Regions from separate parts of the Homo sapiens genome. Here regions 1 and 3 are each linked to region 2. Evidence: fine-mapped expression QTL. A gene starts in region 2. Each other region holds a variant in brackets. All regions are shown on one strand. Distances are between the middles of the regions.

The links. PIP is the estimated chance that this variant, and not a neighbour inherited with it, causes the effect.
Region 1: its variant is fine-mapped to the expression of NIPSNAP3B in pancreas (GTEx, PIP 0.96).
Region 3: its variant is fine-mapped to the expression of NIPSNAP3B in stomach (GTEx, PIP above 0.99).

What each region holds. Positions count from the first base shown.
Region 1 is chr9:104,809,468-104,812,233 of GRCh38, forward strand. It overlaps ABCA1 (ATP binding cassette subfamily A member 1), which reads right to left. Exons shown (of 50, transcript NM_005502.4): 29 at 1,333-1,457; 30 at 1-97. Among named protein-coding and RNA genes, the nearest start is that of NIPSNAP3B, 47 kb to the left of the region's middle. RefSeq lists an enhancer at 1,361-1,655. The variant T/C (reference allele first, on the strand shown) is at 1,781.
Region 2 is chr9:104,763,046-104,765,811 of GRCh38, forward strand. NIPSNAP3B (nipsnap homolog 3B) reads left to right here and starts at 1,084. Exons shown (of 6, transcript NM_018376.4): 1 at 1,084-1,255. The coding sequence starts at 1,196. RefSeq lists silencers at 813-1,012, 1,210-1,399.
Region 3 is chr9:104,613,614-104,616,379 of GRCh38, forward strand. All of the region lies in intron 3 of LOC107987105 (a long non-coding RNA gene), which reads right to left. Among named protein-coding and RNA genes, the nearest start is that of OR13C9, 3.2 kb to the right of the region's middle. The variant G/C (reference allele first, on the strand shown) is at 1,462.

The DNA of each region.
Region 1 (2,766 bases), 46 kb after region 2:
GATTGGGTTTCCTTCCATACAGCGGGTCCCGAAGCCAGGGTCTTTGGTGAGGGCGTTTAAGAGTTCCAGGGTTCCCGTGTCCTCAGGAGCATCATTGCTGTGGGTACATGAGAGGCAGCCAGCTTAGTAATTCATTAAAACCAGTAATCGAGAGATAAAAATGTTTTTATAAATTAAACATTTTAGGAAGCATTTCTCTGTGACAGGCTCTTAAAACAGAAATGAACAAAACACAGAAACCACCCAGAAGGATCTCAGACTCTGGCCCTGTATTCGGCATCAGGGTGACGTAGAGCACTCCAAAGTGGAGCTTGTTTTAAATGGGCTGTATGTATAAAGGTGTGTATGTGTACACACATGTACATACACATATACATTTATATATTTTTTTTAATTTGAAGAAAATCAACTCATTAAGTATTTCAAAAGTGCTTTCACAATTATCCCTTTGGCACAGACAAGCAGGATTTTCCAAGAAAGGGCAAGAAAACTTTGTACTCTTTGCATGCACAACTAGAAAGCACAAAAATAACAGGCACAGGTCACAAACACATGCTATGTTCCACAACTACGGGCAATACAGGGTCAGCAGCCGGAAAGGAAAAAATAAAGTAAACCTGAACTATGTAAGAAGAAAATGTGGGCTTAGAGAAAAAGAGGCCAATTCACATTACATATATATATATATATATATATATATACTTTTTTTTTTTTAAATGCTTCCCTTTTGTATCACTGACACAGTTCCCCCATCTACAGGTCTACAAATCTTTCAGGACTGAAGAAAGCTCCTGCTAACAAGACCCAGAAAAATCCTTTGTCCTTTTCTTTGATTTAATGTATTGTTACAGAGTGGGGGATATTTTTATCTAAAGAACAAACACTACCTAACATCCCAAATATAACAGAATAGATAATAATTACATGAATTATACTTTGCAGAAAACAAGTCTCTGGAGGTTCTATGCTTTGACAGTGTGCCCTGTGACTCAGTTACAGAATTAAAACACAGCTCCACAAATCCAAATATTTTATAACTTAATCATGGATTTTTGCAAGGGTGGATTATTTCACCTAAAACACATGTGGCTGTTCCTGACAACAGTAGGATGAAGAGGAGAGAGGCTGAAAGGCTCAACAGAAGACTGGCCTATTATTCAGGGTTAGTTCGCTGCTGTTCTATGCATGCAGTATTAGCTTATACAGGGACCTGAGCCGCAGCAGTAAAATTCATTCCACCGTGTAATTCTGAAGTCCATTCCCTTGGCCCTCGTAAACATCTTTGGTCTGCTCGAATCTTACCCCCTCCTGGGATGTAGAAGACAAACATACCTGACAAATGTGTACTGTTCGTTGTACATCCAGGGCTGAAGTTCCAGGCTGGGGTACTTGCCAAAGGGTGGCACGATCAGGCTGAACACAAGGGCAATGCAGACAAACACAGCTGGCAAGACAATCTTTACCCAGGCAGTGGAGGGGGCAGGGGGACAGCAGGAAACGGCAAGTGTTAGAAACAAGGCCAAGGGGCAAATCCCTACGAGTCCAGCCCACCTCCCCGACCAACCAGCACGGCAATGAGGAATGCAGGGCCTATGACTGTGCTGCACCAAGGCATTCTTGGCAGCTGGGAAGCAATGGAGCCTGAAAACTAAACCTTTTCTCTGGCAACACAAGGCCAGAGGTTATGGCCACCTGGCAGAGGCACTAAGCCAAGAAGTTCACGAAGTAAATAGTGCTCACATTCAGGGTGACTCAGAACACTGGGTCCTGCCCTTCCTCC[T/C]CCTGAAGACTGAGAAAGACTACATTGGGCCATGAACCCAGGACCAGGAGCCAGAAGTCCTGAATCCTGGTTCTGTCTCTAGCACAAGTGTACCCATGTGAAGTCACGCTCCCCACTGGCCTCAGTTTTCTCATTTTAATCTGAGGTCTGAGAACACATGGCCCATTCAAATCCTACACTATAATAAAACCAACTCTACAGCAACGGCTCCAATCATGGACAACCATAGTCATTATCTCCCATGATAGTCTCAGAAAGAATAAATATCCAATTCCTTCTTCAACCTCCTAAGACTTTCTACCATATCTTCTCTGAAAAAAAAATGACTTGGGTATACTTTATAAGTTAACCCAAAACTCCTTCCATTTATTGCTGAGAAATGTATTCCTTATAACCTTAAAGATTCAAATAATGCCCCCAATTCTAATGTTCTGGGATTTCAATGCAGAAAATTAACATTGAGTGAATAATTCTGTATAACAACTACTATAATGAGAACTATCTCTATGTTGTCATTATTTATGGTTGTGTTATCAATGGTCATCATCAACAAACAAAGGTAACTGAGGATCAGAGAGACTAAGCAGCTTGCCCAAGGTCATATAGCCAATAAGTAGCAAAGTCAGGATTCAACTTGAGCTCTGTATGCTCCAAACTCCCGCTCTTAACAATATCCACATCATCAAATGAAAGACTCTCTGCAGACCTTTTCTCTATATTTCTTGATTTTATAGAGTGAAAAAATTTAACCTTTCTAACTAAGCAAGTTAGCATGCAAACACTGACATGCAGACAATAGTCTAACAAGTCTTCTCTGTTGGCCAACTATATTCTGACCTATCTTTTCTATCAGTTTGAGTTAAACATCAACTCAGAGAAAAATCATGTTTCTAATAAATTCACATGTCAAGTGCATCTGGGCATAACAACTCTCATGTTATGACAGCTGAATACACCCAACCAGTTTTTCTACACTTTGTCCTTTT
Region 2 (2,766 bases):
AACATGGTGAAACGCCGTCTCTACTAAAAATAGAAAAATTAGCCAGGTGTCGTGGCGTGCGCCTGTAATTCCAGCTACTCAGGAGGCTGAGGCAGGAGAATCTCTTGAAACCGGGAGGCGGAGGTTGCAGTGAGCCAAGATCATGCCACTGCACCCCAGCCTGAGCGACAGAGCAAGACTCTGTCTCAAAAAAATAAAAAACATACGGAAACAGGTATTAGAAGAACAGCTTAAAATGTTGAAGGTGGTTAGTCTGGGGACCAGTACTCTGGGACTGGGAGGACTAGACCAGAGGTCGGCTGTTTTGCTCTTAAGGCTTACAGAACGATCTAGTTTCAAACTATCTATGTTTAACTTCGACTTTTTCCTATCAGGCTCGGTGCTGCTATTCCACTGAGCTCATGGAAAATTAAATCTTTATTAGGAGCCTTCCAAGATCACAGTGGGGTGGCAATGGGGACAGATAATGCAGAAAAGCGAAGGCTCACTGGTCTACAAATACACGTCTATCACAACCTGTAAAAGTTAACCCTGTCCCAGCCTGGCCAATATGGTGAAACTCCGTCTCTACTAAAAAATACAAAAATTAGCGGGGCGTGGTGGCGGGCGCCTGTAGTCCCAGCTACTGGGGAGGCTGAAGCAGGAGAATGGCGTGAACCCGGGAGGCGGAGCTTGCAGTGAGGCGACATCGCGCCAGTGCACTCCAGCCTGGGCGACAGAGCAAGACTACGTCTCAAACAAAGAAACAAGTTAACCCTGTCAACATCTCGACTTTAAATGCAAAGCACTGCACATGCACACGCTGAACACCTCCCCTTCCTTCTCCAGGGGCAACACAAGCACAACCGCCGCACATTTACGAATCTACACAACTGCGCATCGGAGCGAATGAGGTCAGGGCCCAGAAAGGTGGGGCAGGAACGATCCCAGCCTTCAGCTAATTCTGTCACCTCTAACGTCTGGGGCAAGAACGTTTCAGGAAACCAAGGGGGACCGAGGCTCAGCGCCGAAGAGAAAGACGCCAACTGCGGGACCTGTCGCGCCTCCCGCGCCGGGGTGGAGCTGACCCCGCCGAGTCCCGCCCCTGCCTGAGTTCGCCAGTGGTCCAGGAGCCGCTTTTTTCCACTCGGGAAGACTTCAGAGAAGTCTCACAAAGGACTCGGCTGGCTGCTTTTCTCAGTGCCGAAGCCGCGCCATGCTCGTTCTCAGAAGCGGCCTGACCAAGGCGCTTGCCTCACGGACGCTCGCGCCTCAGGTACTGGCCGCGGGGGCGCGCCCGAGCCCTGGCCGGAGGGGAGGGGAGGGGCGGGGGGTATTTCTGAAGCGTGCGAGCCACGCTCAGGCGCTCCCAGACCTGGGGCCCCGCGCCGCCGCCGAAGTTCTAACGCGGTCTCTGGAGCCGTCTGGCGCGCAAGGAGGAGGCTACAGGCCGGGGTCGTCTCGCTGGCAGTCGCTGTCAGAGGGGTTTTCTAACTGGATGCCAGTGTTTTTGTGATTTTTGTTTTTGTTTTTGAGACGGAGTCTCGCTCTGTCGCCCAGGCTGGAGTGCAGTGGCGTAGTCTCGGCTCAGTGCAACCTCCGCCTCCCGGGTTCAAGCGATTCTCCTGCCTCATCCTCCGGAGTAGGTGGAATTACAGGCGCCAGCCACCACGCCCGGCTAATTTTTTTTGTGTTTACTATTTAGTAGAGTCGGGGGTTTCACCATGTTGGTCAGGCTGGTCTCGAACTCCTGACCTCGTGATCCGCCCACCTTGGCCTCCCAAAGTGCTGGATTGCAGGCATGAGCCACTGTGCCCAGCCTGATGCCAGCTGTTTCTAGCCTAAATGCCACAACTCCCGGGACACCCCCGTGGCGCCAGCTGTTGCGTTTTTTTAGGATAACATCTCCAGATACAAATCTCCGAAAATCAACTTTAAAAGCAGTTATTAGAAATACCTCATTGGCCCATTTTCCGAGATAATAATATTTTTAAACTGTAGATACTAAGCAGTTTTTTATTTTCAGAATTTGATTAAACTGACCCAAAAAGAATGGCCATCAAAAGAAAGGATAGTTGCAGGTATTTTTTGGTATGAAGAAGGGTTTTCTAAGAAAACTAAGACACTTGGGCAATAAGGGCATAACTCATACTGGAGATGAATGAACTCAAGATAGACAATTATAATTAAGACGTTATGCACACAAACTACATAGACATTTGCATGTTGTAACCAAAAATATGTCAGTGAAAGATGCCTACTGAAACTGTTGCGATAGATTATTCTGGGTAGTGAGCCTCAGGAAATTGTCACATGCTAACCATGCCTAAATGAATGGATTTGTAAACTAGAATGCCACGGGAGTGGTCTGTGTATACACGTGTGTTTACATAAATATTTGCATGTACGTACATACAGACAGACTGGATAATTTCTGACAGGGCATTTGCTACTGAACATTAAGCTCACTCAGGCTCAGAGGGCCAGATTAGGACAGAAAATTTACCCATTGGGCATATGACTATTACAAAGGGTGGTTCTTAAAGGATAGTTCCATAAACTTGGTATAATTGAGTGCACTAAATGTACATACTTCTTGATATTGCATCTGTAATTAGAAACAATGATGGAGACAATTCTCATTTGTTGAGTTTTTTTCCTTTTCAGCCTTTATGCAGTATACACCCATAGTACAATGCAATTGGATAAGTTATAGCTTCCTTTTATATTAGTTACATTCCAGTCCTGTTTTTGACCGGTAGTCTTCATCAGTAGATTCAGGAAATA
Region 3 (2,766 bases), 150 kb before region 2:
TACTAATGTAGTGTTATGGTGTCGCTAATTTTATCTTCCTCTTATCAACACTGGATGTTGTCAATAATTTAGATTTTCAATCTAATCTAAAGGGCTTAAAATGGTATCTTGTCATTATTGTAAATGGCATTTTAATCTTTATAGATATTTACTATTTACATTTTGGTGTGTCTTAAAGAGTTTTATTTTCTTTCATGTGAGTTGTGCACTCATGTCCTCTATTCATTTTTCTATTGTGTATTTTACATTTTTACACTGGTTTCTTAAATATTCTTTTCAGCTAATAACAAAGTATCAAATAGGATAAAGATATATCAATTAATGATAACAGTCACAATTTTACATTTTTAAATCACTTGTTTACATGAAATGTATTATATATATATACTCTATGAAACTTGTAGAAAGAACATCTGCAAATATAAAAATGCCTCAGACACAGTCCTCACCTTCAAGAATCATATAGTTAGTAAGAAAAACATTCATGTAATTAGTGAATTTCAATACAAAGTGGTGAAAGCTGTGATTAAAGTGATGGCTTAGTGTGCTATGGAAGTGAAACAGGAAAAATTCCCTTATCCCCCTGGCAGAGCATGTGATGGGGGTGTGGCTTGCTTCTTCAGTTACACTAAGAATTGTAGATTTTGCTATCTGGTAGAAATTTTTGCTATCTGGTAGAAATGGCAGATTTTGCTATCTGGTAGAAATGGTAGATTTTGCTGTCTGGTAGAAAAATCACAGGAACACGCACACACTACAAACACACACACACACTACACACACACACACACACACACACACACACAGAGATACATGACTGTTATATCAGATAAGTTTATCTTACTTTGTCTCCAAATTAGAAAAAACAAATTGCTAACAACAAAATGATCCTCCATAAGCTTTTAAAATAAAATTTCTGAATGAAAACTCCTCTAGAGGCTCAAGTATTAAAATAAAGCATTATGTCAGTATTATAATGATTGTGTATTTTGCCCAGCAAATTTGAACACATAAATATATCAAGACAGTTAACATGCCTTTATTTTCTTCAGACCTTGATTCTACAACCCTGTGAGAGAAAAACTCTCCTAATATTCTCCTGTAAGGAGAAATGTGTGCTTTAAAATTTCTTCTTCCTTTAATTAATTTTCTATCAAAAATGTATAAATCTCTAATATCCAGAATCTACAAAGAACTTAAACAAATTTACAAGAAAAAAACAAACAACCCTATCAAAAAGTGGGCAAGATATGAACAGAAACTTCTCAAAAGAAGACATTTATGCAGCCAACAGACACATGAAAAAATGCTCATCATCACTGGTTATCAGAGAAATGCAAATCAAAACCACAATAAGTTACCATCTCACGCCAGTTAGAATGGTGATCATTAAAAAGTCAGGAAAAAACAGGTGCTGGAGAGGATGTGAAGAAATAGGAATGCTTTTACACTGTTGGGACT[G/C]TAAACTAGTTCAACCATTGTGGAAGACAGTGTGGAGATTCTTCAAGGATCTAGAACTAGAAATACCATTAGACCCAGTGATCCCATAACTGGGTATATACCCAAAGGATTATAAATCATGCTACTATAAAGACACATGAACACCTATGTTTATTGCGGCACTATTCACAATAGCAAAGACTTGGAACCAGCCCAAATGTCCATAATGATAGACTGGATTAAGAAAATGTGGCACATATATGCCATGGAATACTATGCAGCCATAAAAAAGGATGAGTTCATGTCCTTTGCCGGGACATGGACGAAGCTGGAAACCATCATTCTCAGTGAACTATCACAAGGACAGAAAACCAAACACTACATGTTCTCACTCATAGGTGGGAATTCAACGATGAGAACACTTGGACACAGGGTGGGGAACATCACACACTGGGGCCTGTCGGGGGGTAGGGTGTTGGGAGAGGAATAGCATTAGGAGAAATACCTAATGTAAATGACGAGTTGATGAGAGCAGCAAACCAACATGGCACATGTATACCTATGTAATAAACGTGCACATTGCGCACATGTACCCTATAACTTAGAGTATAATAATAAAAAATGGTATAAATCTGATGTAACACTATGGAGCCACCTGAGTCATCCCAGAGAATTTATCAAAGTGGCTGGATTTAAGTTGTGAAGGAAAACAAAATTAGCATTTGAGCATTCAAGACAACCTGACTATGAGTCAAACATAAAATGCCTGACTTCCGGAGTTTTCTACCTACCAGGAATTCTTAGTGGGTGCAAAAAGTCCAATGAACTCGTGTATGGGAACTAATAGATTTTCACAGCCCATTTTGTCAGGATGTAAATTTAATTATCAATAATTTCAACTCTTGCCATCAGATTTAATCTGTAAACAACTATGATGGATATATTTAAATATAGTTTGTGACTGTTTAATATTCTTTCCACTAAAATTAACAAGTGAACTTGGGAAGATTAAACGAGTGACTAAACCCAAAGATTCCACAAGCAGGTAATTCTTACTTGTCTACGTAAAATATGTTTATGCCCAATATACTCTAAATTCACTGGTCCATTAATAAAAATTGCTTCAGCTAAACTGATTACCTAGAAGGTGGTTCACTCCTGAACACACTTCATCATTCATCTTGGGCTGTAAATTTAAAATGTTCTTCACATAGAGTAAAATGTTGACGTAAAAACCAAGGAAAAGCAAGATAATGTCTGACATTCCCCAATCCTCTTCTTCCTCAAATTAAGCTGGTTAGTAACAGAGACAAGACATGAATAGTA